7 linked regions of the Homo sapiens genome follow. The protein of the gene in region 7 interacts with the protein of the main gene of each other region in a biochemical or structural test. Each region holds a gene or a part of one and is shown on either strand. Other genes may lie near its edges.

What was found.
Region 1: the proteins of ABL1 (region 7) and XPO1 interact in a test that uses a peptide from one of them, tested with the Homo sapiens proteins (2 studies listed by BioGRID).
Region 2: the proteins of ABL1 (region 7) and TOPBP1 form a complex in vitro, tested with the Homo sapiens proteins (one study listed by BioGRID).
Region 3: the proteins of ABL1 (region 7) and ERBB3 form a complex in vitro, tested with the Homo sapiens proteins (2 studies listed by BioGRID and IntAct, with this or other methods).
Region 4: of the proteins of ABL1 (region 7) and ATM, one has a biochemical effect on the other in vitro, tested with the Homo sapiens proteins (3 studies listed by BioGRID and IntAct, with this or other methods).
Region 5: of the proteins of ABL1 (region 7) and ATR, one has a biochemical effect on the other in vitro, tested with the Homo sapiens proteins (2 studies listed by BioGRID, with this or other methods).
Region 6: of the proteins of ABL1 (region 7) and RIN1, one has a biochemical effect on the other in vitro, tested with the Homo sapiens proteins (2 studies listed by BioGRID and IntAct, with this or other methods).

Annotation. Positions count from the first base shown.
Region 1 is NC_000002.12:61,489,385-61,493,471, reverse strand, and holds part of XPO1 (exportin-1), read left to right. Parts: intron 1-418; coding exon 419-557; intron 558-723; coding exon 724-905; intron 906-990; coding exon 991-1,147; intron 1,148-1,273; coding exon 1,274-1,437; intron 1,438-2,695; coding exon 2,696-2,830; intron 2,831-4,087. UniProt on the Homo sapiens protein: Mediates the nuclear export of cellular proteins (cargos) bearing a leucine-rich nuclear export signal (NES) and of RNAs.
Region 2 is NC_000003.12:133,655,046-133,659,132, forward strand, and holds part of TOPBP1 (DNA topoisomerase 2-binding protein 1), read right to left. Parts: coding exon 3,971-4,087; intron 2,897-3,970; coding exon 2,753-2,896; intron 1,813-2,752; coding exon 1,631-1,812; intron 442-1,630; coding exon 245-441; intron 1-244. UniProt on the Homo sapiens protein: Scaffold protein that acts as a key protein-protein adapter in DNA replication and DNA repair. Composed of multiple BRCT domains, which specifically recognize and bind phosphorylated proteins, bringing proteins together into functional combinations.
Region 3 is NC_000012.12:56,082,578-56,086,664, reverse strand, and holds part of ERBB3 (receptor tyrosine-protein kinase erbB-3 isoform 1 precursor), read right to left. Parts: intron 3,352-4,087; exon of another isoform or gene 3,117-3,351; intron 2,915-3,116; coding exon 2,763-2,914; intron 1,671-2,762; coding exon 1,484-1,670; coding exon of another isoform or gene 1,353-1,483; exon of another isoform or gene 1,048-1,352; intron 135-1,047; coding exon 9-134; intron 1-8. UniProt on the Homo sapiens protein: Tyrosine-protein kinase that plays an essential role as cell surface receptor for neuregulins.
Region 4 is NC_000011.10:108,323,480-108,327,566, reverse strand, and holds part of ATM (serine-protein kinase ATM), read right to left. Parts: intron 2,258-4,087; coding exon 2,023-2,257; intron 1,510-2,022; coding exon 1,342-1,509; intron 1-1,341.
Region 5 is NC_000003.12:142,554,382-142,558,468, forward strand, and holds part of ATR (serine/threonine-protein kinase ATR), read right to left. Parts: intron 2,195-4,087; coding exon 2,002-2,194; intron 1,759-2,001; coding exon 1,496-1,758; intron 1-1,495. UniProt on the Homo sapiens protein: Serine/threonine protein kinase which activates checkpoint signaling upon genotoxic stresses such as ionizing radiation (IR), ultraviolet light (UV), or DNA replication stalling, thereby acting as a DNA damage sensor.
Region 6 is NC_000011.10:66,329,154-66,333,434, forward strand, and holds the end of RIN1 (ras and Rab interactor 1), read right to left. Parts: intron 4,257-4,281; coding exon 4,105-4,256; intron 3,600-4,104; coding exon 3,123-3,599; 3' UTR 1,088-3,122; downstream 1-1,087. UniProt on the Homo sapiens protein: Ras effector protein, which may serve as an inhibitory modulator of neuronal plasticity in aversive memory formation. Can affect Ras signaling at different levels. First, by competing with RAF1 protein for binding to activated Ras.
Region 7 is NC_000009.12:130,841,505-130,845,591, reverse strand, and holds part of ABL1 (tyrosine-protein kinase ABL1), read right to left. Parts: intron 1-4,087. UniProt on the Homo sapiens protein: Non-receptor tyrosine-protein kinase that plays a role in many key processes linked to cell growth and survival such as cytoskeleton remodeling in response to extracellular stimuli, cell motility and adhesion, receptor endocytosis, autophagy, DNA damage response and apoptosis.

The sequences.
Region 1 (4,087 bases), on a different chromosome or scaffold from region 7:
GCAGTGGCGTGGTCATAGCTCACTACAATCTTGAACTCCTAGACTAAAGCAATTCTCTTGTGTCAGCCTCCCAAGTAATTGGTTGCAGGCACACACCACCATGCCTAGCAAATTTTAAATTTTTTAGTTTTACTTCATTTATATTTACATAGTTTTTTCTGTTGTGCTTTAAGCCCCAGTATTTTTATTGTTTTAGAGATTGGGTGTCATTTTGTGTTGCTCAAGCTGCTCTCAAATTCCTGGCCACAACAGTTCTTTTTGCCTCGGCCCTCCGGAATAGTTGGAATTATAGGCATGAATCCCTACACATGGCTGGCTTGTGGTTTTTTTGGTTTTGTTTGTTTTTAACTAAGCTTCTACACTAATGATTTCAGTGATCTAACGATTTTTTTCTTGATTGATATATTGTTGAGTATAGGTCCGTTTATTAATGGTTAGTCGAATGGCTAAACCAGAGGAAGTATTGGTTGTAGAGAATGATCAAGGAGAAGTTGTGAGAGAATTCATGAAGGATACAGATTCCATAAATTTGTATAAGAATATGAGGGAAACATTGGGTAAGTTAATAAATACTGTTAATCTTTACCTTTATAAATCTATTCTGGGGTGGAAATACATTTTAGGAAATGTACTTGTAGTTTCTAAATATTTTCTAAATGTATTGTTACTCATCAATAAAATTCTGCTCATTATTTGCATTTGAAACCATGTTTTTCTTTGTAGTTTATCTTACTCATCTGGATTATGTAGATACAGAAAGAATAATGACAGAGAAGCTTCACAATCAAGTGAATGGTACAGAGTGGTCATGGAAAAATTTGAATACATTGTGTTGGGCAATAGGCTCCATTAGTGGAGCAATGCATGAAGAGGACGAAAAACGATTTCTTGTTACTGTTATAAAGGTATGCAAGGGATAGGTATGAATTAGAATTGCTAAATAAGTATTATGTTGTTACAATAAATAATACAAATTTGTCTTATTTACAGGATCTATTAGGATTATGTGAACAGAAAAGAGGCAAAGATAATAAAGCTATTATTGCATCAAATATCATGTACATAGTAGGTCAATACCCACGTTTTTTGAGAGCTCACTGGAAATTTCTGAAGACTGTAGTTAACAAGCTGTTCGAATTCATGCATGGTAAATCTCTTTCTTTACTATATTTTGCTTTTATTTTTATTGAAGAAAATAAATGAATGTTTTTGTCTTGTTAGAGACCCATGATGGAGTCCAGGACAAAATAAATGAATATTTTTGTCTTGTTAGAGACCCATGATGGAGTCCAGGATATGGCTTGTGATACTTTCATTAAAATAGCCCAAAAATGCCGCAGGCATTTCGTTCAGGTTCAGGTTGGAGAAGTGATGCCATTTATTGATGAAATTTTGAACAACATTAACACTATTATTTGTGATCTTCAGCCTCAACAGGTATGTTAAGCACTGAGCATATGTTATTTTTAGAAAGTAACACTTGTATCAATCTGTATGTATCAATGGAAATAGGAGGGCAACTATTGGATCCAATAGAAGTGTTTCTGATTAAATTTTCTTTCTTTTTTCCTTGAGACAGGGTCTTACTCTGTTGCCCAGGCTTGAGTGCAGTGGCACAATTACGGCTCACTGCAGCCTTGAACTCCCAGGCTCAGGTGATCCTCCCACCTTGGCCTCGTGGGTAGCTGGGACTACAGGCATGCACTGCCATCACACTCAGCTAACCTTTTTCCCCCCCTTGGTAGAGATGGGGTTTTGCCAAGTGGCCCAGGCTGGTCTTGAACTCCTAGCTTCAAGCGATACGCTTGCCTCAGCCTCCCAAAATGATTTTATATGTGTGAGCCACCACGCCCAGCCTGGTTAAATTTTCATAGTGAGACAGATTCTTGACCAGAAGATTGTTAGGCTGTTGTCCTATGTAAAATTATTCCGAACAAACAAAATCAGGTGTTTTTTGTTTTGTTTTGTTTTGGGGTGTGTGTGTGTGTGTGTGTGTGTGTGTGTGTGTGTGTTTGTTTTTTGAGATGGAGTTTCACTCTGTCGTCCATGCTGGAGTGCAGTGGCGCAATCTCGGCTCACTGCAGCCTTGCCTCCTGGGGTCAAACGATTCTCTTCCTCAGTGGCTATGATTAACAGGTGCTTGCCACCACGCCCAGCTAATTTTTTTATTTTTAGTAGAGACGGGGTTTCTCCATGTTGGTCAGGCTCATCTCCAACTCCTGACCTCATGATCCGCCCGCCTCGGCCTCCCAAAGTGCTGGGATTACAGGCGTGAGCCACCACCATGCCTGGCCAGTTTGGGTTGTTTGTTTGTTTGTTTTTTGAGGTGGAGTCTTCCTCTGTCACCCAGGCTCGAGTGCAGTATTGCAATCTCGGCTCACTGCAACCTCTGCCTCCCAGGTTCAAGCAATTCAAACCTCCCAAGTAACTGGAATTATAGGCACCTGCCACCACGCTTGGCTAATTTCTTTGTATTTGTAGAAGAGATGGGGTTTCACCACGTTGGTCAGGCTGGTCTGCAACTCCTGACCACAAGTGATTGGCCTGCCTTGGCTTCTCAAAGTATTGGGATTACAGGAGTGATCCACTGCACCTGGGCCAAAATCAGTTTCAAGACGTTTGTGAATTGCTTGTGTGTGGTTTTCCTTATTAGGGTGTATAACATAAACGTTAAAATGTCTGCTTTTTAAAATAGGTTCATACGTTTTATGAAGCTGTGGGGTACATGATTGGTGCACAAACAGATCAAACAGTACAAGAACACTTGATAGAAAAGTACATGTTACTCCCTAATCAAGTGTGGGATAGTATAATCCAGCAGGCAACCAAAGTAAGTATTTCTACCTTTTCTTAAAAGTTTTCATGGGATTTAACAAGACGTGTTCTTTACAAATGTATTGAATTCAAGCCTTTTAACATGTATGTGTGATCCATAAGTGCTTTTATGTGTGTCTTTCTATAATTTATTATCTGGGCGAGGTGTGGTGGCTCACGCCTGTAATCCTGGCACATTGGAAGGCCGAGGCGGGCGGATCACCTGAGGCCAGAAGTTCGAGATCAGCCTGGCCAACATGGCAAAACCCCGTCTCTACTAAAAATACAAAAATTAGCTGGGCGTGGTTGCACATGCCTGTAATCCCAGCTACTGAGGAGGCTTAGGCAGGAGAATCACTTGAACCCAAGAGGCAGAGGTTGCAGTGAGCCGAGATTGAGCTACTGTTCTCTAGCCGAGACGACAGAGCAAGACTCTGTCTCAAAAAAAAAAAAATAAATGAAAAATCTGGGCCGGGCTCGGTGGCTCACGCCTGTAATCCCAGCACTTTGGGAGACCGAGACGGGTGGATCACTAGGTCAGGAGATTGAGACCATCCTGGCCAACGTGGTGAAACCCCGTCTCTACTAAAAATACAAAAATTAGCCAGGCATGGTGGTGGGCGCCTGTAATCCCAGCTACTCGGGAGGCTGAGCCAGGAGAATGGCTTGAACCCAGGAGGCGGAGCTTGCAGTGAGTCAAGAGCATGCCACTGCACTCCAGCCTGGTGACAGAGGAAGACTCTGTCTCAAAAAAAAAAAAAAATACTGTAATTTCCATTCTCATTTGATATTAAAATAGGAATAGGCTGGGTGTGGTGGCTCATGCCTGTAATCCCAGCACTTTGGGAGGCCGAGGCAGGCGGATCACCAGGTCAGGGGATCGAGACCATCATGGCTAACGCAGTGAAACCCTGTCTCTACTAAAAATACAAAAATTAGCTGAGTGTGGCGGCGGGCGCCTGTAAGTCCCAGCTACTCAGGAGGCTGAGGCAGGAGAATGGCGTGAACCTGGGAGGCAGAGCTTGCAGTGAGCCGAGATCACGCCGCTGCACTCTAGCCTGGGCAACAGAACGAGACTCCGTCCCAAAAAAAAAAAAATAGAACTATATTACTTCATTCTTAAGTAGATGTAGACAAAAAGGCGTTTGTGTTCGTTTTTACCATTTGGGATTATAAATATGGTTTAGGGTAAGGGAAGCGTAATGGCTTTTGCTTTGGTAATTATGTGGATTTTTTTTTTTTTTGAGATGGAGTTTCACTCTTGGTGCCCGGG
Region 2 (4,087 bases), on a different chromosome or scaffold from region 7:
AAAATAAAAAGTTATTCAGGCGTGGTGGCAGGTGCCTGTAATCCCGCTACTCGGGAAGCTGAGTTGGGAGAATCGCTTGATCAAGGGAGGCAGAGGTTGCAGTGAGCTGAGATTGTGCCACTGCCCTCCAGCCTGGGCAATAGAGCAAGACTCTGTCTCAAAATAAATAAATAAATAAATAAAAATAAAATATTAAATACTAGAGAAAATGTTTCATTTGTCCCTTTGTGAAACACAGTTTTACCTTTTGGTTCTTGCACAATGAGGTGTGTACATTCATTCATTTTCAATTGTCCCATGTATTGACCTCCATGCTTAACTGTGAGTTGCTGAACTTCTTTCCTGTCTAAGCCACATAAGCCAGTCACACAGATTATGCAACCAAGAAAAATAGGACACTTGAAATCTTCCATGTTTATATCAGTATATCTAGTTATTTTTCTGTGGGAATCAAATGGTTAAAAAAGAACATATTAAATTTACCAGAAGAATAATGAAAAACAACACAAATATCACTATTGCTTCCCTCATTTTTTAGGATTTATAATCTTTTTTTTACAAAGGAGAACCACCAAAACAGAATTACACTAATTGTTCACCTAGTTCAATAACATGTCTCTAAAACAAAGTAATTGTTTCAGATACAGTCTCTCAAAACCATTTTAAGGGAAAAATATATATTTCCTTAACTCTAGCCCTTGCTGGTCATAGTATATTTTCCAAAATGATAAGTCTGAATCTCTACTTAAAAACCCAAAGGTAATTTGGTTGCCTATTAGATAAATGAACTTTTTAATCTTTCCATTATTCTATACAAGTAAAAGCAATGATTTTTGGCAAAATACCAACAAAAATATCATTATTCTGTTGCCATGCTAGGGAGGTGTGCTGATGAAGTAATCACATTGGGAATGAGAGTTGCTGACATGGAGACATATTTGGGATATGCTGGATGGTGTTGAAAACAAGCCCAGAAAAGTGCCGATATAATTCGTATGCCAATACAATTCTGTGGTGTTTGGTCTTGTGGTTGTTTATCTAGTTGCAGGGGAAACTGAAGTGTGCCCCTTGAAATAGGCTCTAAGCTCCATGAGGGAAGTGACTATCTTGTTTTGCTTACTACATATACCTAATGCCTACCTCAAGTCAGATACGTAAAATGGGCTCAATTAGCATTTATTAAATGATCACATCTCAGCTGATGACTTGCATATGTTTATATTCAACCTTACATATGCCATCTTTTGGAAGGAATGCAACTGCCAAAATGACTAATTTATTATCTATCTTAACATATGGGAATGGTGTTGAAGGATAATGCAACATAAAAGCTACAGAATTGCCAAACTCGTTTTCTCAATTATTTCAGAAATATTTACAGCTGAGAACTTTATCACCAAAGCATTTCCTACTCTGTAGCTAATGCTAAACCCTTGGCCCATTCTATGCCTGTCAACTTATATCTTGGTAATAAGAGCTTGTAGATTCTGCTCTTCCGTTTTCGCTGGAGAAAAGAGTAATGACACTATTTTTTTCCCTGAATAGTAAGTCCAAAGAGTATATCACATGCCAAAAATGATTGAATGCATCATTTTTTCAAATCTAGAAAATATAAAAATGTCTTTCTTACTTCTCTTGTGACTTCTCCCAAAGTGTTTTTATCCAAGAGGGAAGCAAAATAGGTTTCTTCAGGTTTGCAGCAACTAAATATTTTTTGCTACCAACTTCTCCTGCAATAAGGTGAGTTACTGATACATTAAGGTCTCTGTATACTCGTCCGCCCATCATTTGTACATATTTATGAACTTCTTCCTGCAGCCCCAAAAGAGAACACATTAATGCTGAAGCAAACAATATTGCTTCCACTTTTATACACTATCTCATAAATACATTTTGCTGTTGACAGTTTGAATACATAAGTGTTACATAACATTATAAAGTTAAATAATTAACCAAATTATTTTTTGGGAGATAAGTATGAATTATATTTTTAAAATATTATTTTCCTATATTTATCCCTTTCAACTCCATGAATGTATTAAACTATTATACAAAGGATGTATAAATCTTAATCTTTGCTTCTATATAAATATACATGTGTATTTTTAACAACATAAATTATATCTATATAATATATAAATATTTATTTTTAGCCAGGCTTGGTGGTGCATGCCTGTAATTCCAGCTACTCGGGAGGCTGAGGCATGAAGATTACTTGAGCCCAGGAAATCAAGGTTGCAGTGAGTTGTGATTGTGCCACTGCACTCCAGCGTGGGTGACAGTAAGACCCTGTCCCAAATATATATATGTATTTCTATAGCTCTCTCTTAGAATGCTTTTTTTTTTTTTTTTCCAAAACGAAATCTTGCTCTGTCACCCAGGCTGCAGTGCAGTGGCGTGATGTTGGCTCACTGCAACCTCCACCTCCCTGATTCAAACGATTTAGAATCCTTTTTTTTAAAGACTGTCCACCTATAGTGGAAAAATGTAAGTGATTAAAAAATGAGTGTCCTTTTAAATTAAAACAAAAAATTTCAATTAGCCAGTTTTCAACAAAACAAATTCTACTATATTCAATTTACTTAAAAAATGTACATGTATACATATATACACACTGTGGTTGTATACTGAACTTTGTTAAAAGTCACGAACAATAAGCGGAAAGTCTTTTAAGCTATCTTCTATGCAGTGAAAAATTAAGAATAAGAGATAGATATATAAATTGATCAATCATCATGAGATCAATATCTACCCTTTTTTCTTTTTCCAGACTTGTACAAGATATGGTTACATCAGACATAACCATATTATAAACTGGATGTTCGGCTCTTGGGACACATCGCTGGTGGTGCATACAAAATATGACTACTTGAGGACCAACAATTCTGCAGCCAAGCTACAAAAAAGAGAAAAGTTTAAATGAGTTAAGAAGGAAAAGACCACCAGTCTTACAAAATTACATTTTGTAACATTCACCAATTCTTTACCAAAGTTGATGACCACTGTAGAGAAATCAGCAAATCATTACAAGAAAAAAATAAAGATGACTATATAATTTCTCAGAGATACTATACATTAAACACTCACACACAAAAGCAAATCAAACAATGCAAGCTATCAAAAGAAATAAACTTCAGGCCAGGCACAGTGGCTCACGCCTGTAATGCCAGCACTTCAGAGGAGGCCGAGCGGGGGTGGATCACCTGAGGTCAGGAGTTCGAGACCAGCCTGGCCAACATGGTGAAACCCCGTCTCTACTAAAAATACAAAAATTAGTCGGGTGCAGTGGCGGGCACCTGCAGTCCCAGTCTCTAGGGAGGCTGAGGCAAGAGAATTGCTTGAACCCAGGAGGCGGAGGTTGCAGTGAGCTGAGATCACGTCACTGCACTCCAGCCTGGGCGACAGAGTGAGACCCTATAACAAAAGAAAAAAAAAAAGAAAAGAAAAGAAATAAACTTCAAAAGCCCCTTTCACTGAAAACTGCCTTACTGCTTACATCTATAAGCCCAATATTTTGGGAGGCTGAGGTGGGAGGATCACTTGAGTGCAGGAGTTCAAGACCAGCCCAGCCTGGCCAACATCGAGAAACCCTTTCTCTACTAAAAATAAAAAAATCAGCCGGGTGTGTATATACATCTGTAATCCCAGCTACTCAGGAGGCTAAGGCACAAGAATCACTTGAACCAAGGAAGCAGAAGTTGCAGTGGGCTGAGCTTGTGCCACTGCACTAAAGCCTGGGCAACAGAACAAGACTCTGTCTCCAAAAAACAAAAACAAAAACAAACAAACAAACAAAAAAAGCCTACTGTAACATAATTAGCCTTTCAATCCTGGTCTTGCCAAACCAAAAGAATTCCAATGTACTCATAAGTTGCATAGTACTTTATAATCCGCAAAGAATGTATGTCCATTAAAGCAAAGATAAACCAAAAAATAGACTACCAAAGGTACACACTAGAAGTCAGCAAACCTTTTTGAGGTGATCAAAGACAACGCCACTAAAAGGGTCACAGATATAAAGTGATCTATCATTCTCCTTTATCTTCAATGCCTCTTCTTCTGTAATAATCTGAAGATATTCTTCTGA
Region 3 (4,087 bases), on a different chromosome or scaffold from region 7:
CCACTTACAGCTTCTGCCATTGTCCTTCACCACTATCTCAGCATCTCGGTCCCTCACGATGTCCCTCCAGTCAATTGTGTCCATGTGACAAAGCTTATCGTTCTTCTCAATATAAACACCCCCTGACAGAATCTCTGAGGTAGGGAAAGAAGTGACAGGGTTAAGGGCCGCAGCGGAACGCCTCTTCCTTACCTCTCCACCCATCCAAAAGGACACCTGAGACTCAGGAGTGGGAGAATGAGGCAGACAGATAGGTCCAATTAAATCTAAGCTGCAGAGAAGACTCCCTTTATAAGATGAGGAGTCAGGCCAAAAGAAACTCCTGCCTCCTCAGTCACCTGTCCAGATCCGGTTTAGCTAGTGGGGGAGGGGAAGGGAGAGAGGGAGAGATTTCTGACTCAACATTCCCTCCCCCAAGCCCTGCCCATATGTTTTCCAACTGACTGGGACATGGAGAAGCAGAAGATGGACAGGTGGTTTTTAACCCCTATATTCCTCCAGCTCATAGGGGTTTGGTTTAGGAGAGTAAAGGTAGAATTCCTAGGGAAGGAGGGACATCCAGGTATACTGTACTTTGGTTTTTTTTTTTTTTTTTTTTTTTGGAGTCTCGCTCTGTCGCCCAGGCTGGAGTGCAGTGGTGCAATCTTGGCTCACTGCAAGCTCCGCCTCCCGGGTTCACGCCATTCTCCTGCCTCAGCCTCCCGAGTAGCTCGGACTACAGGCGCCCGCCACCACACCTGGCTAATTTTTTGTATTTTTAGTAGAGACGGGGTTTCACCGTGTTAGCCAGGATGGTCTCGATCTCCTGACCTTGTGATCCACCTGCCTTGGCCTCCCAAAGTGCTGGGATTACAGGCGTGAGCCACCGCGCCCAGGCTTTTTTTTTTTTTTTTTTTTTTTTTTGAGACGGAGTCTCACTGTCACTTACGCTAGAGTGCAGTGGTGCAATCTCAGCTCACTGCAACCTCCACCTCCCAGGTTCAAGCGAGTCTCCTGCCTCAGCCTCATGAACAGCTGGGATTACAGGTGCGCACCACTATAGCCAGCTAATTTTTTATTTTATTTTATTTTTTTGTATTTTTAGTAGAGACAGGGTTTCGCCATGTTGGCCAGGCTGGTCTCAAACTCCTGATCTCAAGTGATCTGCCCTCCTTGGCCTCCCAAAATGCTGGGATTACAGGTGTAAGCCATCAGGCCTGGCCTCCGGTACACTGTACTTTGAAATTAGAAAAACGGTTAACAGATCCAGCTCTGACTCCAGCCCCACAAGGACACAGGGTTCCTTTCCCTGGAGCAGATGCCCCTAGCTCCCCCTACTGGGGGCCCTCTATTGCTTAGGGAGCAATGGACCTTTAGACAGCGGCCAAGGTGACAGGCACCTTGGAAGAGGCACTTAGAGTGAGCAGTCTTGGGTCATCATCAAGGAGGTACCAGTCTTGGGCTGGCTGAGGGGTGAGGCCAGAAGGAACCATCGGGAACTGACCGGTGAGCTGAGTCAAGCGGAGCTGGCGCAGAGCGTGGCTGGAGTTGGTGTTATAGTTCAACATGACGAAGATGGCAAACTTCCCATCGTAGACCTGGGTCCCTCGCACCACGCGGAGGTTGGGCAATGGTAGAGTAGAGAATTCATTCATGGCCACGAGGACATAGCCTGTCACTTCTCGAATCCACTGTGACAGAGCAGATTATGTAAATGAGAGAGACAACAGGGCAAAATAATCTCAATCTCCTCTCCTCCTTCAGGCATTAAAGACTCTTTAACTGTTTTAATTCTTCCTTCTTTCTTTCCTTTCTTTTTTTCTTTTTTTTAAAATTTGAGACGGAGTTACGCTCTTGTTGCCCAGGCTGGAGTACAATAGTGCGATCTTGGCTCACCACAACCTCCACCTCCCGGGTTCAAGCAATTCTCCTGCCGCAGCCTCCCAAGTAGCTGGGATTACAGGCATGTGCCACTACACCTGGCTAATTTTGTATTTTTAGTAGAGATGTGGTTTTTCCATGTTGGTCAGGCTGGTCTCGAACTCCTGACCTCAGGTGATCCGAGCTTGGCCTTTTTTTTTTTTTTTGGTGAGACAGGGTCTCGCTCTGTTACGAGTGGCACAATCTCGCTCACTGCAGCGTCAAACTCCTGGGCTCAAGCAATCCTCCCACCTCAGCCCTCCAAGTAGCTGGGACTACAGGTGCATGCCACCATACCCAGCTAATTTTTGTATTTTTGTAGAGACAGCGTTTCACCACATTGCCCAGGCTGGTCTTGAACTCCTGACCTCAAGTGATCTGCCTTCCTTGGCCTCCCAAAGTGCTGGGATTACAGGCATGAGCCACTGCACCTGGCCTTAACTCTTGCTAATTCCTATTTGGGAGTAGGGAGTAGACTGTGTCACACTGCTGTGTCACTTCTGGGAGTGAAGACAGGCAGCTTTCTCCTCAAAGTGCCTCATACCAGTAGGGCCCCTTCCTCATCTCCCCAGGTAACCTCTTGGTCCTCAGGTTTCTCTCTGCACTAGTCCCTGCTGACCTTGCACTATCCACAGAACACCACCTGCCCCTGACCCTGCCCCCTATATATCCCTGGCTACAACAGTGAGACCATAGGTCCCAGATGACAGCCACTGTCCCCATAAATACACGGTTTTGAATCTTAGGAACTCCTGAGTCTTAGGAAGGGTGAACTCCAGCAGAAGGTAGCCCTGAAGAAGGAAGGAGGGTTCTAGGGGAGAATAAAGAGGAGCAGGTTGAGGAAGGAGGGTGGGCTCACTAACCTGCAGGAAGGAGAGGTCGGCATTGTGTCCCGTGAGCACAATCTCAAGGTTCCCCATCACCACCTCACACCTCTCGTAGAGCTTGTACAGTGTCTGGTATTGGTTCTCAGCATCGCCGGTCACACTCAGGCCATTCAGAGTCCCAGGACACACTGTTCAAAGCAGAGGGAAGAGTGGCTGAGGGCTGGACACAAATTCTCAGCCCATCTGCCATCCCCAAAGATCACCCCCTTGGTTGCCCTCTTCCAGTTACATTAGACAGGATCAGATGGCATTTGCCTCCAACCCTCCCACAAGCGATAGGCAGAAGCTGTAGTGGCCTGAGAGCTTTCTCTCTTCTCAGAATCCCCTTACCATTCCATGAATGGGAAGGTGAAAAGATTTCCTTTTTCAACCTGGGACCCCTCTGTGCTTCTTTTGGGTACTAAGGGGTTAACTGAGAAGGAAGACAGGGAATTTGTTTCTCTCCCTAGAAAAGAGAAGTTAGGAAAAGGCCGCAACTTTGATTACCCTCCTCTCCCCCTCCAACTAGGGCACTCACTTCTCTACCCTCATCCTGCCTCTCTCTAGGTCCTGGAATAAATATCTCTTTGGGACTAGTACACAGCCCCTATTGTGTCTACTGAGGGTGGGATGGGGGCAGAGGGTGGGGGCAGTGCCTGGGGCCACAGTCCAGCCCACAATGAGGCGATTCTATCCAGGAGGGGGGCTGCCCCACCCTGTCCCTAGACACCCCGTCCTCAGCAGCACTCCCCTCCACCCTCAAGCCTTGGGCTCAGACAAGTGACCTCAGTAGAGGGGGGAGCTCTGGCAGTGCTGGGGTGAGGGGGGGTCAATGGGAGCTTTGTCTTTAAAGCTGAAAGATAAGGAGCTAGTTGCCTCCCCGCCTTCCTAAACTCAGGGTTTCCTTCTCACTCTCTCCCCCATCCCAACACACTCTAGCAACCTCAGCATCACTTTCCAGCCCTAGAGTATTTTTCAGCAAATACAGAGGAACCTGGAGAGAGATAGTAGCAGATGCCCCATATTGAGCCTCCACACAATTTCATTGTTAGAAGAGGTTCATGAAAAAGCCTTTCACCATGGCAATCCTCACCCACACTAGGGGAGAGCCTAGACTAGAGGTACATGGCATGTCAGCCTTGGGAGTTCACTCTTCTTTGCAAATGTGGTGGACAACGGGCTATGGGAAGTCCTGGACTCTGAAGCCCTACCCCAGTCTCTTTCCTCTGGTTCAGGGAAAGACCATGTGTGGGGTGGGGAGTAGGGGGTAGATACCACCTGTTCCAGCCACCCTTCCCTGAGGCGGTGGTAGCTCAGTGGGA
Region 4 (4,087 bases), on a different chromosome or scaffold from region 7:
AAGCAGGTTAAAAATGTTTTTCCTTGGTGGGTGGGAAAAAAAAAGTTTTTCCTCATCTGCTTTTGCCATACAACTATTTTAATAATCCCATGTAGGAAATGATCATCCTCTGTTTATTATTATTATTGCCATTATTGGAGCAAGTCACATTTATTGAGTACTTATATATGTCAGACACTTTGTAAAGGCTTTATATATATTAACTCATTTAATTCTCACAAGAATCCTATTAAATAAGTACTATTATTACCCCAATTTGCAGATTAGAAAACTGAGGTACAAGGAAGTTGGGTAACTCCAGACAGCACATACTTCAGGGCCAATACTATTAAGCAATATTTACACATATCATATTGGCACTCAGTGCTTTGGTATAATGATTTCTCTAATAACAGAAGATGCTATACAATGAGTGCCCAACATCAAAAAGTACAGTAAAGGCCGGGCGTGGTGGCTCACGCCTGTAATCCCAGCACTTTCAGAGGACAAGGCGGGTAGATTGCCTGAGCTCAGGAGTTCGAGACCAGTCTTGCCAACATGGTGAAACCCCATCTCTACTAAAAATACAAAAAAATTAGCTGGGCATGGTGGCATGTGCCTGTAATCCCAGCTACAAGGGAGGCTGAGGCAGGGGAATTGCTTGAACCAGGGAGGTGGAGGTTGCGGTGAGCCGATGTCGTACCACTGCACTCCAGCCTGGGTGACAGAGCAAGACTCCGTCTCAAAAAATAAATAAATAAATAAATAATAAAGCACAGTGAGCTGATATTCACTAAGCAGGTACATGTCTGTGGGACACCACTGTAGACAAACCTTGGGGACACCAATGCCTCTACTTTATCCAGTGTGTATGCTGGGTTTACAGCTGAAGTAGCAACATAAGTTTGCAAAAACCAACAGGTAATGTTAGATAAAATATTAGATGTGATATTTTCAAAGCATTTGGATTGACAACCTAATTGTCCCAACTTGCTTTTATTTTCTAATTTAGTTCTCTCATTCATTTCCTCTTCCCTTTTTTCACTTGTCATTTCAAATTTAGAGTAGCTATTTCATTCATTTCCCACATACCTTTCTTGAATTCTATAGGAAGTTAAAGGCTTAATACTGGGATATATTAAATGAATCGACCACATGATGGACTGATAGAATTGTGATATATAGGAAAAAGTTTCTAAACTTCATTTACAAATTAATTTTCAAGACTAGTTTTACAATATCTTGTTAATAAATTACTAATTTCAAGGCTCTAATAAAATTGTTATTAAAAATATTTTAAAGTACATTTGTGTTTTTTTAAATAACAGTAAAACACTAATCCAGCCAATAAAAAAAACAAACCGCTGCACAGCTGGCATCCAACTTCTTGATCATTTGCTTGAGAATACTCAGGGCAAGACTCTGCTCCTTTTTTGCCCAGAATACTTGTGCTTCTTCCAGCTGCCACTCAGAGACTCCACAGCTAACTGAATTGTACTGTTTAATTTGAAATATTGCCCTTTCAGGGAGCTGAAATGAAAATGACATATGGGAATAAATACTTTTACTACTGATACTACTACCATGAATAATAATAATAATGAAAGCAGCAACTACCATTCATTGAGGACTTAACTACTTGTCAGGGACTATCTTAAGGACCTCTCTGTCTGCATGACATCTCCCCACCCCACGTCTGCCTATCTGTCTGTCTGTCTGTCTCTCTCTATATGTATGTATGTGTATCTGTGTGTACATACACACAGTATATAAAATCACTGAATTGTTATCAATATAGTAAGTTACGTATCTTCTCATTTTATAACCAGGAAATTGAGGTTGAGAAAAGATTAAGTACCCTTGCCCAAGGCTTAAAAGTCAGATCTAATTCCAAAATGGGAACTCTTAAACAATTATTTTTACTATATATTAATAGAGATCTCTATCTCTTAATGACATTTCTTTTTCCCTCAGGCTTTCTGTTTTTTAAATAATAAAAGGAAAGTCAAGAGGTAAGATGACATAGTTTTAAATTGTATTTACCTGAGTGTTCTTGAAAGTTCTGGCCAGTATAGAGAGTTCTACAAGGTGTTTGGTGAGAATGTCCTTAATACATTCTCTTTGTGAGTTGTCCATTTCCTTTTCCATCAGGATCTCCAAAATGACTGTGCGTAGAGCCATGATAGGCTCCTGAAAACTAAAATCACTGTCCTTGAGAAGCTGGGAGTGTTTCTGCCACTTAATATATACTTCAGAGAGTTGTCTATGTGTGACTGATCTGAATGCCACGACATAGAGTTCATGTAAGCAAGAGAAATGAAAAAAAAAAAAAAAAAAACTATGTAAGTTCTGGAACTTACGATATAATATTATAATAATACAAAGGAACTTTTGTAGTGACAAGACTAGAACTTGTAAATAATCCTACATATGGATCAAAATTTAGAAAACTACAAAATGCTATGCGGTCAGAGCTCTTAAGAGTTATTAGCAGAGAGGTCACAGATGACAAACATCAAAAAAAATTTTTAATACTCTGACATTACAAAAAGCAGCCCTTCTAAATACTCTTCTGAAACAAGAACATATTCATCAGACCTATCATAAAGAATGCCTCCATCTTTAGTCCTGCTTCAATACTGCCTGTAGTAATGAGGACATGTCAGCAAGGAAATGAGGGACCCCCTACTGGGGATGACTTGATGCATAATTATAGCTGTCAAAAAAATCACAATCCAGTGAAGGAAAAGCTGGCATCTGGCAAAGGTTTCATTTACCAACATTATTAAAGGAACAGAAAAGGCATATTGCACAATTAGTTTATATGAATAGTATCCTTCCCAAATAACTGAACTATGAAATACTACCCAATCCTTCAGGGACATTTATTGAAAGAAATAAGAAAGAGGAAGCAGGGAGAGTAAGATGACAAAGTGATGACTAAGAAATGAAAGCTCTTTTAGTTGCTTGATAGGGAAGGAACAGTAACAAAAATGCTAGGAACCAAAACTTCAATTCCTCTCTAAATGACCCTACCACAGCAGGTCTCAAACTTTTTGCGGAACTCCTTTACAATCAAACAAATTATTGAAGACCCCAAAGAACTTTCGATCGTTGGACCATATCTACTGATATTAGATATGATATCATATTAGAAAGACTGAGAAAAATCTAAAATGTATTAATTTATTCAAAAATAATAAATCTACTATATATCATAAATAACAATTTTTAGGAAAAATAACTACAGTAGTTTCTCTGTATCTGCAGAAAATTGGTTCCAAGACACCTTGATAATGCTGATGTTCAAAGTCCCTTATTTAAAATGGCAGGGCATTTTCCTATTACACGTAACCTCTAGATTGTGCTTTTATTAAACATTTCCAAAAAGTATTACACATAACCTCTAGATTACGTGTAATAGGAGAATGTGCACAGGTTATACATAAATCTCTAATTACATATTATACCTACTATAATGTAAATGCTATGTAAATAAGTGTTATACCCTATTCTTTAAAATTTTTTTTTCAAATATTTTTGATCTGCGGTTGGTTGAATCCATAGATGGAAACCTGTAGATAAAGAATTTCAACTGTATACTTCCCAAAACAAAACAAAACTTAGTGAGCATGGCACTGTTTTGCATTTTTGCAAATCTCTTTAATGTCTGGATTAACAGAACGAGATGAATTCTTATCTCTGCTTCTGCATTTAGTTTGTTATTATTTAATGTTTTGGTTGATGTATATGAATGGAATGTAATCTGAGAGCATAAGCATTTGTGCACCAGTTCATCCAACCTTCCCTCTGCTTCTCTTCTTCCTATTTCTCTACCAAAGAAACAGCCAGATTATTCTTTAGGTGTTTCTTTTTAAAATTTATTTTTAATTTTTATGGATACATAATAGTTGTACATATTTATGAGGTACGTGTGATATTTTGATACAAGCATACAATGTGTAATGATCAAATTTGGGTAATTGAGATATCCATGATCTCAAACATTTATCATTTGTGTTGGAAACATTCCAAATCTTCTTTTGTAGCTATTTAAAAATATACAGTAAATTACTGTTAACTACAGTTGCCCTATTGTGCTATCAAA
Region 5 (4,087 bases), on a different chromosome or scaffold from region 7:
CATGCCTGGCTAATTTTTGTATTTTTTGTAGAGATGGGGCTTCACCATGTTGCCCAGACTGGTCTCGAACACCTGAGCTCAGGCAATCCGCCTGTCTCGGCCTCCCGAAGTGCTGGTGTTAAAGGAGCGAACCACTGCACTCAGCCTATAAATAATTTAAATCTAAAATAATTTCCAGAATTGTTATAAAATAACAAGTCTCTTTCAGATTTTGTAGACCATTATATGTTACCAAGATAAACTTAAAAACACATTGCAGGCCAGGAGTGGTGACTCATACCTGTAATCCCAACACTCTGGGAGGCCAAGGTGGGAGGATCACTTGAAGCTAGGAGTTCAAAGACCAGCCTGGGCAACAAAGTGAGATCCCTCTCTACAAAAAATTTAAAAATTAGCTGGGTGTAGTGGCACATACTATGGTTCCAGCTACTCAAGAGGCTGAGGTGGGAGGATCACTTGAGCCTGGGAGATCAAGGATGCAGACTGCAGTGAGCCATGATTGCGCCACTGCACTCTAGCCTGGGTGACAGAGCAAGACCCTGTCTCTTAAAAAAAAAAAAAGAAAGAAGAAAGGCCGGGCATGGTGGCTCATGCCTGTAACCCCAGCACTTTGGGGGGACAGAGTGGGTAGATTACCTGAGGTCAGGAGTTGGAGACTAGCCTGACCAACATGGTGAAACCCTGTCTCTACTAAAAATGCAAAAATTTGCCAGGCCTGGTGGCACACGCCTGTAATCCCAGCTACTCCGGAGGCTGGGGCAGGAGAATCGTCTGAACCCAGGAGGCAGAGGTTGCAGTGAGCCAAGATGGCGCCATTGTACTTCAGCCTGGGCAACAAGAGCAAAACTCCGTCTCGGGGAAAAAAAAAAAAAGAAAAAAAGAAAAGCACATTTCTCAAGGGGATCTTAGCTTTATTGTTAACCTTACATTACAAGATTTAGGGAGTACTTTCTATTGCTTTCAATAGAAAGTTTCTATTGAAACTTCAGAACAAGTTTCAACTTACTACCTAAACAAATGGATCTTCTAAGTATTTGTATAAATCTCATACTTCATAAAAATTTATACTCCATTACCACTGGAAAGTGGCCAAGAAGATACACTCTATAGTCCTCAGTTGGGCAAAGTAATTTAACTATTTGAAGTTCTCAAGGTCCAAGGTTGTAACAGGGGGCACATTAAGACGATCTCTGGTATCACTAAAGAAGATAATCTAATATTGAATCTTACAATATTGAAACAACCATCAGGTATGCCCCATTTAGGCTGTCAAATCACAAGAGTATTCGAAAAATCCCAAAATCACCTCTCCTACCAGTTTTGTGATGCGATCTAATACCAGTTATCCCATTTATAACTAATCAATACTGAGCACTGAATCTATAAAGCATGTAACTTCCTGTAATTTTTCAAGGCTTCAGTCTAATTCTTTTACTGATTTGAAAAGCAGAGCTTAAATAGGTTTTAAAGTATTAAATAAGTCATAATCACTCACCAAGTTTTACTGGACTAGGTATTTTTTTTTTCAGTAGGAAAAGGAATGGCTTGCAGACAGAAGCTTTTAGTTGAGAAGATGAACATTCATGTTGAGAAGTGGCTTTCAAGTTCCTACAGAAGAGGTCCACATGTCCGTGTTCAGAGAAAGGTTCTGTTAAAGAACTTGTCAGATAAAACATGCCGTGAAGAGTACAGACAAGTTGACCAAGTATAGAAGCAAATTCTTTCTTGACAATGTCAGAATCATCTTTGACTTTATCTCTGGGGAAAAAAAAGAAAAAGTACTAAACTTTCTTGCCTAATTTTGTGGTCTAAATAGTCTTGCTTAATTTGGGACAAAAGTACTGGTAAAACAAAGCCTAGAAGGAAAAAATGTTAAATTCTAAAACTAAAAGCAACATTTGCTTTACATATTCAACAATAAACACAACCCTGCATACATAGCCAGACAATTATGATCTTTCCAATAGAGTGATATATTCAAATTAAAATCTTAGTACATACATAAGAATCTTGGGAACTCTGTTACAAGAATTCTGCTGCTGCAATAAGATAAAAAATCCACTAACACAACTAGCCCGGATTACTTCATGGGAGCTCTGCAGGGCCCAGTTGTAAACTGCTGTTCTCCACTCAAGGAATATTCTTCTTGGAAACAGAGTCAGAAGAAACACACATCGTGATTGTGCCTGTGGTGCTGAAAAAATTAAGTCTATTAAACAAGATTTCTACTAATGTTAATTTTATGTATACACATATACATATATATAAGTAAAGTAACATTTGTGTATACATATATATAAATAAAAGTCAAGTAACACTTAAAATACATTTAATACCTAATTTAATTAAAAGCTCCTTTTCAGAAAATAAAGCAAGTGCACTGAAAAAGGTCTATACACAACCTTACTAAATAATCAAGGAAATGCAAATTGAAAATCATACCTACCAGATAGGAAAAAGAAAAAATTTAAGATACTTAACTCCATGACATTTTTTATTTTCTAGATAGCAAAAATTTTAAAGTCAGCTAAGTGTCAGTGAGGATGTGGAACTCATACTCTGCTAACAGGAGTGTAAACTGGTGTATCTTTGGAGAACAATACAGCAGAATAGAGGTGAAGATGTGCAAACTCTATAACCCAACAATACTACTCCTAGGTAGGTAAAAACGTTAAAATAATGCTTCTCAAACTTTAATATGGATATGAATCACCTATCTTGTTAAAATGCAGATTCTGATCAGTAGGTCTGGGTGGAGCATAAGATTCCCCATTTCTTTCTTTCTCTCTCTTTTTTTTTAATGTGCTCTTTCAGCAGAATCAAAGACGCTCCATTTCTAACAAGTCCCTAAATGGTGGCGATGCTACTGGTCTGTGGAGCATACTTTTCAAACAGCAAGGACTTAGAATGACTAAAGAATCATTTATAAAAATATTCATTTAAATGTTGCTTGTAATTGTGAAAAGTTGGAAACAACTTGATTGTCCACCAATAGGAGGTCTGATAGTGTCCATCCAAATTTGGCTACTATTTGGAAGTTTAAATAAAAACTAGAGTTACCCATATCACCATGGATAAGTCTCATAAAGATAGTGTTGATCAACAAAATGTAAGCTGTAAGAAGCAAAACAATTTCTTATATTATTTATAAATAAATACATATATAGTAAAAGTAATAGAACATTCAACAGAACAATCAACACCAAATTCAGAACAGTAGTAATCTCTGGGGAAAAAAATGAGGGGAATGAAATCATAGAGGGACAAAGGCTTCCATCATATCTCTAATAGCCCAGGCTGGAGTGCAGGGGTGCAATCTTGGCTCACTGAAACCTCTGCCTCCTGGGTTCAAGAGATTCTTGTATCTCAGCCTCCCTAGTAGCTGGGACTACAGGCGTGAGCCACCATGCCTGGCTAATTTTTGTATTTTTAGAAGAGATGAGGTTTTGCCATGTTGGCCAGGCTGGTCTCAAGCTCCTGACCTCAAGAGATCCGCATGCCTTGGCCTCCCAAAGTGCTGGGATTACAGGCGTGAGCCACCGTGCCTGGCCTAATGTTTCTATTTCTTAAACTGAGAAGTTGGTATAAGAATTTTTGGTATATTGTTCTTCTTTTTAAAATATTTCTCAAATACTTCCTAATTTTATTAAATGAAGATAATGATATGTAAGGACACATTGCAAATGTTTTACAAAAAGAAAGGAAATGGGATATGTGGGGCAGGCTTTTATGTGTTACTTTTTATGTATCTAACCCCCTTCTGAACTATTAAAAATGTACCTGCTCTTTTAATTATTGAAAAAAATATAAATAAGTCTTAGAAGTCCTATATAGAGATGAGTTAAAACAAACCACACAAGGCCAGGCATGGTGGCTCACGCCTGTAATCCTAGCACTTTAGAAGGCTGGGGCAGGTGGATCACTTGAGGTCAGGAGTTCGAGACCAGCCTGGCTAACATGGTGAAACCCCGCCTCTACTAAAAATATAAGAATTAGCTGGGTATGGTGGTGCGCACCTGTAATCCTAGCTACTCAGGAGGCTGAGGCAGGAAAATTGCTTGAACCTGAAGACGGAGGTTGCAGCAAG
Region 6 (4,281 bases), on a different chromosome or scaffold from region 7:
GCCTCCCAAGTAGCTGGAACTACAGGCGTGAGCCACCTTGCCCAGCTAACTTCTATATTTTTAGTAGAGATGGGGTTTCACCATGTTGGCTAGGCTGGTCTTGAACTCCTGACCTCAGGTGATCTGCCTACCTCGGCCTCCCAGAGTGCTAGGATTACAGGCCTGAGCCACCTTGCCCGGCCTATAACAGATGTTTGATAGATGTGCTGAGTGGACATATAAATCAGCCCCTCTGCTTTGAAGGACTACAGAACCTGGTGTCTGAGCCCTTTGTCCTGTAACAAGGCACTTTCCCTGAGCAAGTCTGAGTTTTCTCATCTGTAAAATGGGGCTAGTGAGACTGGTCTTACACTGGCCTATCATTGTCTGCCTTGCCTGGAGGCTCTGCCCCAGGATCATAATCTTGTTGATGCTGATTTGGCCTGGACCCCTGACCAATCAGTTTCTTTTTTGTTTTCTTTTCATTTCTTTTTTTTTTTTGAGATGGAGTCTTGCTCTGTTGCCCAGGGTGGAGTGCAGTGGTGTGATCTCGGGTCACTGCAACCTCTGCCTCCCGGGTTCAAGTGATTCTCTTGCCTCAGCCTCCCCAGTAGCTGGGACTACAGGTGTGTGCCACGACGCCTGGCTAATTTTTGTATTTTTAGTAGAGACGGGGTTTCACCATGCTGGCCAGGCTGGTCTTGAACTCCTGACCTCAGGTGATCCACCGGCCTCGGCCTCCCAAAGTGTTGGGATTACAGGCGTGAGCCACCAGGCCCAGCCCAGAGTTTCTTGAGAAGAAAAACCACAAGACCCAGGCAGCAGCTCCCTGTGGTGCCCCATCACTGGGGAGGGCAGGGAGGGGGTCAGGTCATGCTGAGCCTGGCAAGGGTGGGAAGGGCTTGTAGAGGCCCCAGAGCCTCATTCCCATGAGGCCAGTTGTACATCCGGCCCCTGGGATCCTCCGAGCACCCTCTACAAACATTCCAGGTCCTTCCTCTGGGACTGAGCTTGACACATCCCGTGTTTGATTCCCAGAACCGAGTCCTCCCTTATACTCCCCAGGTTTCTGCCTCACTGTCCCTCACTCCTGGTTATCAAACTCCAATCAGTGAACAACATTTATTGAACACCTATGGCATTTGTGCTCAGCATTGGACTGTGTGAGGCACTAGGGGTGAGTGGTGAAACAGGGAGGGGAATAGAAGAGCCAACGGGACACTTCCTATCAGCGAGAACCTTGGGAGGGCGTGGAAGTGGGGAGGGAAGAGCTGCTGGTGGCCTAGTGACAAAAAAAATGGGAGCCGTGCAACTGGGCTGTATCTGGACTGCTCATCTGAAAGTCAATGTCTGGCTGGGTGTGGTAGCTCACGCCTGTAATCCCAGTACTTTGGGAGGCCAAGGCGGGCGGATCACCTGAGGTCGGGAGTTTGAGACCAGCCTGGCCAACATGGGGAAACCCCGTCTCTACTAGTAACACAAAAATTAGCCAGGTGTGGTGGTGCACACCTGTAGTCCCAGCTACTCGGGAGGCTGAGGCAGGAGAATCACTTGAACTGGGAGGCGAAGGTTGCTGTGAGCCGAGATGGCACCACTGCACTTTAGCCAGAGCGACAGAGCAAAACTCCATCTCAAACAAACAAACAAACAAAAAAACCCAAAAAGCCAATGTCCACGATTTCTACCTCCCAGTTGTCATGTCTGACATTTGGGCTGACGTCCCCTCTGTGCTCAGTGCCCGAGGAGAGAGCCTCTGGGGTCATCCTCCATAAGGGGACAATTCCTTCCTTCCTGGGGATGGCCCCCAAGAGGCTGGCCTTACCCAGACCCCAGAATCTAAGGGACCTGGGGGCCAGTGGCCTTGGCCCCTGCGCTGTCCCCAGGTTGCCTGATGCTGCTGGACTGCAAGGCCCGGGACCCCCTCTGCTGCTGCAGCCTTGGAGGCGCCCTCACCCCTGGGTGGTCACCCTCTCGGCAGATTCCCGGGCCGTGCACACCCCCTCGTGGTTGGTGGTCGGCACTTTTCCTTGTTTGGATTTGCTGCCTGCTCTGGGCTTCCTTGGGGGCTGCCCCGGCCTTTGTGGGTGGCTTAGAATGGAGGGTGGAGTTGGAACCTGATGCCCTGGTTTGGGCGGGGGAACCCTTAAGGACTTGCTATATGACATCCTGGGAGTCACTTTCCTGACCCTCAGTGGGCCCAACAAGTCATGGCCAAGTAAAGCTTTTGTGAGGGCCAAGAGTTTAGTGCAGAGAGCATGGTTTCTGAGCCCCCTCTCCATTCTGGAAGCTTATCTGCCAGCTGGTGGATCTCCCCAGAGATGCTGGAGGGCCTGGGAGGACTCCAAATCTTGGGGAGAGACTGTAACTTGGGTACTTTCTCCCCAGGGCCTGATTTCCAGGGGAATAACCTCCCTGAACTGGGCATCAGCAGGTGGGAGCCCTGTCTGGCAGAGAGCGGACTCCGGGAGAGAGTTAGCAGCCCAGCTCTCTCCCTCCCTTTCTGCCATGAGCTCTGCTTGTAGCAAAATCACCCATTTTGATCACTGGGACACTTCTGGGAGCCGAGCAGGGCAGCAATAGTGTCCCCACTTTACAGATGAGAGTACTGAGGCTTGCAGGTGCAGGTCCTTCTGGTGTCCAGGACAGGGGTGGGCCCCAAGCCTTTGCTGCTGTTCTGTGGCCTCTCTAAATCCTCCTGACACCTAAGAGCCATTGGAACCTTTTAGGGTCTGGAAGTCCCAGCCTGGTGGGAGATACTTGGGTGGAGCCCTGCCTCAGCCATGCCCATGAGGGGAAGGGTAAAAGGAGCTGAGACCGTCACCCTCCCCACGTCAGAGGTTGGGCATCTGTCGGATTCGCCCCCACTTGGCACACCCTCATTGCAGGCTGGCTCACCCTCAGCTGGGGGAGAAGAACAAGAGGCAAGGGGCCTTGGGCACACAGTCTGGGGGCCCCCGAAGCCCCCTCATCTTTATTCCAGTTCCTCAGATGTGGCAGTTCCCCCAGCTTCCCTGGAAACAAGTATCAGACAAAGGTGGTGGCAGACACAGGACAGGGCCCTGGGTGGGGCTTGCTGGCGCTAAAAGGATTTCTCAGCAGGCTCAGGGTCTCCCGCCCCGAATGACCCTTCTGGCCACTTCAAGCTACTCCTCTGCTGCCCGGCTTCCCTCTGCCTCTGGTTCCCCTGGCTGAGCAGGGCCTTCCTGGGCTTGACCCTGGCCCCCTTCAGCAGTTGTCTCAGACTGTTCCCGAATGTCCCTGGGGCTGGCTTTGACCCCAGCATCCCCATCTCCCTGGCACCCTTGCTCCTCCCCTCTGCTTCTTGCCTCTGACTGCCCACTGCCCTCCTCCTCTGTCACAGCCCCCTGGGTCTCAGGCCACTCCGCCCGGCGGTAGACGAGGTAGCCAGTGGTGGGCAGCCTGTGGGCCAGGGCCCCAGGGGGCAGGCGGTGGTAGCCCTGCTCCTTGTACAGGAAGAGGCCAAAAGTGTTGGGCTGGGTCACTCGGAACTTGGTGGCACAGAGCTGGTTCAGGGTGGCAATCGAGGCTTCTGGGGGCACGGCCAGGGTCTTGGAGGTGCAGCCACTGCTGGGATCCTGATAGGCTACTCGGAGGAGGTGCTATGCAGGAGGAGAAGCAAAAACAAGTACTCAGCCCCGGCTGGCATGCATCTGGCTCCAAAGCTGAGACATCAGCTTTCTGGGCTGTGCAGGGACAGGGTGGGTAGGTGGAGATCCAGTGGGAGAACCAAGCGGCAAAAGCTCTATGTGCTCCAGGGGTCGGCTTGTGGGCCACAGCCGCAGGTGCAAGGACAGCCCAGTGGGGCGCTCACAAGCCTGAGATGAAGATTTGATAGTGAGTAATTTGTGCCCCAAGCACTCTCCTGCATTAACTCATTTAATCTTCACCTCAACCCCAGGAGGTAGGTCCTATTACCCCATTTTACTGATGAGAAAACTGAGGCACGAAGTAGTTAAGTAACTCGCCCAAGTCCCCACAACCCAGTGGCAGAGCCAGGATTAGAACCCAGGATCTGTCTACAGAGTCTGGACTCTTCACCAAGGACAGGAAGGTGAAAGGCGGGGATGGCGTCTGGCTCTGAGGACACGGTGGAGGGCCTGTTACCTGGAAGCAGTGGGTGGCAGGCAGGCGGCGCTGCTCCCAGAGGCTGAGGGAGCGCCGTAGCTCCTGCACGGGGCTCAGTGGGAGGGTGTGGGCCTGACCCAGGCCACTCAGCAGGGCCAGGCTGGCAGAGAGGCTGGTCAGGTAGTAGCCACCTGGGACACAGGGTGGAAGAACACG
Region 7 (4,087 bases):
CAGGTGTGGTGGCTCACTCCTGTAATCCCAGCACTTTGGGAGGTCGTCTCTACTAAACCACGTCTCTACTAAAAATACAACAATTAGCTGGGCGTGGTGGTGCACATCTGCAGTCCCAGCTACTCGGGAGGCTGAGGCAGGGGTTTCGCTTGAACCCGGAAGGTGGAGGTTGCAGTGAGCCAAGATTGCATCACCACGCTCCAGCCTGGGCAACAGAGCTCGACTCTGTCTAAAAAAAAAAAAAGAAAGGTTAAGATTTGGACTGTTGATGGGGATAGGAGTTAGGATGGAGAATTTTGTTTCTTAAAAATTGTCTGGCTAAGACATTGTCATGTAAAAGATTCCAGGGGAAATATTTAAACCTTGGACTAATTAAATAACTTTATTTTTAAAGGAGGTTTCTCTAGAAACTCATTTAATCTACTGCCTATAATGGCTACAAGTGGAAAGTAATAAAACTGCATTTATTTTAAAAGAAAATTGCATAATTTGGACCTCTCACTAATTTATCCCAGTCTCCTTTTTAGGCTCTTCCTGTGAGAATGCTGAGGTTTTACTGAGCCAATTCCTTAGTGCAGGACTTGTTAACCTGGAAGACCCTGGGAGTCTGGGATAGAATTCAAGGGCTCCATGTCCTCTGATGGGAAAAATTAAAATTTTATTTCACTAACCTCTTACTAAAATGTAGCATTTAATTTTTTTAAGAACACAGGTAACAAACCAGAGTAGAAGTACAGTGCCTGTGACTGTCTCTGGTAGAAACTAGGTATTTCTTTTTTTGTTTGGTGGGGAAACCGAGTTTCACTCTTGTCATTCAGGCTGGAGTGCGGTGGCGCGATCTTGGCTCACTTCAACCTCCGCCTCCCGGGTTCAAGTGAGTCTCCTGCCTCAACCTCCTGAGTAGCTAGGATTACAGGCGCCTACCACCATGCCCAGCTAATTTTTATATCTTTAGTAAAGACGGGGTTTCACCATGTTGGCCAGGCTGGTCTTGAACTCCTGACCTCAAGTGATCTGCCTGCCTTGGCCTCAAATATTAACCTTTCTGAAGATACACAGTCCCTGTCCCCCTCCCTCAACCAAAAAGGAAAAAAAAAAAATTGTGTCACCTTCCAAGAATCTACGGTGAAAAAGTCTCCAATTACTGGAAATGGAGTACAAAGACACTCATAAATAGAGATGCCACTATCTTCAAGGCCATTCTGAACACCTGCCATTGACGCCCATATCAGGACTGAGGCTGGAAGTCATCCTCTGTCAGTTCCCACCCTGCATCTTGGCACTTTTCCTCCTCAATCTCTCATCACTTCTGTCCTTTCCATGCTCTACCACGCCCTTGGCTGGGTCCCCCTTTGGCCATTCCACCTCCACTCCCTACTATCAGGGCCATCTTTCTCAAATGCAGACCTGACCAGGTCACTCTCTTGCTTCAAATCCCTTAGAGATGGCTGCCAGCCGAGAGGCAGAAGAGAGCATGGGCTTGGGAGGTGGCCCTGTCTCCCAATGGTCAGCTACCACTTACTGGCAGTGTCATCGGGGGCAATGCTGGGATCATGATGTGCTTTGCAGGGTAGCTGGCAGTTTGCAGCTAACATGGGACATGTTTTTGAGGGCCTAGGCATGCACAGGCCCTCAAAAAATGGCTGGGGTTGTTATTCCTTCCACCACTATAGTAAAAGTCTGAGCTCCTGAAGCAGGCATGCCAGGCTCTTCAGGGTTGAGACTGGGAGCATCTGGCCCTCTACTCCTGCTTTCCATTCCAGCCTCTCCAAACTCCTTTCAGATCCCCCAGGCCTCCTGTTGCTTGCCTCTCCTGACTGCACTGTGACAAGTGCCATTTACTCTCCCTAGAGTTCGTTCCCCAGCCTCTTCTGCTCTTCCTGGCCTCCCCATCTCCCATAAACCTTCTCTAACCGGTCCTTCCTCCTCCCCATCACCTCGCCCACAACAGGATGCTTCTCCTTTAACCCATTTGGGTACCTGGTGTCTGTCTCTATCACCACCCTGCATCTATCACCCAGTAAGCAATCTGTTCACATGTCCCCAGCAGTACAAAAAGCATGGGCTCTGGGTGGACAGGCCTTGTTCAAACCTCAGCACCAGCATGTCTTGAAGACATTTGTTTCTGAGCCTCAGTTTCTCAACTGCACAACAGGGCAACAACGGCATGGCATCAACCTAGTTGGGCTGTCGGGAGGGCTCAATGAATCCTGCATGCAGAGAATTTCTGCATGGATGCCAACTGTGGCACCTGACACTGGGATGCTCACTACAGAACAACCGCGTCTTCTCTTATGCCACGCCTTCTCTTCTGCCACCACAACAATGTAAACTCCTCTGGGGTAGAGACCAAGTCTCTCATATCTCAGAGCCTTCTGTGCCTGCTCAGTGCAACGCAACAACACAGCACTGCTGGGTGAACTCAGATGTGGAACACCCTGCACTTGTCTGTCTTTAGCTACAAGGTACTGAAAAGTGCAGTTTAATAATCTGTTAACCTGTAATAAGAGCAGCAATAATGACAGATAGTAAAGTTGAAAAACAAATGCAACCTGACCAGGAAAACCTATATAAAAGCCTAGGGAACATAATGATTTGTTTTGACTGAAATATAAACCATGGCCAAAATCCTAAAGGTATAATGTAAAAACACAGTTCTCTGTGCTTTCAAAAGAAATAGGATTTGCTCCAGATTCCTAACAGACACCACAGTGAGCTCGCCGGACACCTTCCCAACAGGTTCCAGGAATCCCTGCAGTGGCCGCAGATCCAGACTGTCCACAGTCAGCCTGCTAATACCCACAAAGGCATTTTTATTGTCACAGGCCATTTGCAACAGACTGAAAGGCCTCCCCTTCTGCTGCCAGCCATGGCTGGTTTGAAAGCATTCACATTTCCTCTTCTTTTAACATGTCTTCATGGACTCCGGGGTCAGCTGACACCAGAGGCACTGGGCTACCCAATGACAGGCAATTTCCCCAGAAAGCCTTGTTAGCCATTAGTATTTTTATTGCTGATCTGGGTAAATGAACATGACCCTCCCCACCCTCATGGTATTTTGGCTTCAAAAAGCAATGCCTAATTGTATTCACGGCCTGTCTTTAAATACAATTTTAAGGTATTCAATGAACAACGCTATTAGCTAAATTTGAGGGCTTGTAAGACAGATAAAGACTAGGTTTCTATAGAGAATTTAAGAGTAATGAGGTTAAAGTTTATGCAACTTAATGTGATAGAATAATAGCTAATACTTACTGATCCCGTATCAAGTGCCAGCACTTCATCTGCACTGAATCCCTATAACCTTATTACGTAGACTCTATTATGAAGGCATTTGAGGGCAGGAAATGGAAACAGAGAGATGTGAAGTTACTGATGGCCTCTCTCTCCAGCTACCCATCCATACATCAGCTGCCTGTCCATCATCTGTCTCCTGCGCTTCTCTTGCTCTCACTCATTCTCTCTCTGTACCCACCCACCCCAGCCCCACTGGCCATCCTATTCCTCTTTGTCTCCCTTCTCTCAGTCTTCCTTCCCTCCCAGCTTGTTTTTTTTTCCCTTTCCTGTCTCAACCTTTTTGTATTTGTCTCTCAGTCTCTGTCTCTATAGATTTCCCCCTTATGTCTCCCCTTCCTCCCTCCCTCTCTCTCTCTCTATCTCCTTCCCACCTATTTCTCTCTGTCTTCCCTATCACCAGTACTCAACACACGCAATATAACAAAAATATTTATGGTGTAACATGGTAAAGAAAGAAGGATTTGAAAACCAACTTTTTTTTTTGAGCTGGAGTTTTTGCTCGTTGCCCAGGCTGGAGTACAATGGTGAGATCGCGGCTCACTGCAACCTCTGCCTCCCAGGTTCAAGTAATTCTCCTGCCTTAGCCTCCTGAGTAGCTGGGATTACAGGCACTCCCCACTACGCCTGGCTAATTTTTTATATTTTTAGTAGAGACAGGGTTTCAGCATGTTGGCCAGGCTGGTCTCGAACTCCTGACCTCAGGTGACCACCTGCCTCGGCCTCCCAAAGTGCTGGGATTACAGGCGTCAGCCACCGCGCCCGGCCTGAAAACCAATTTCTAGAGCAAGCT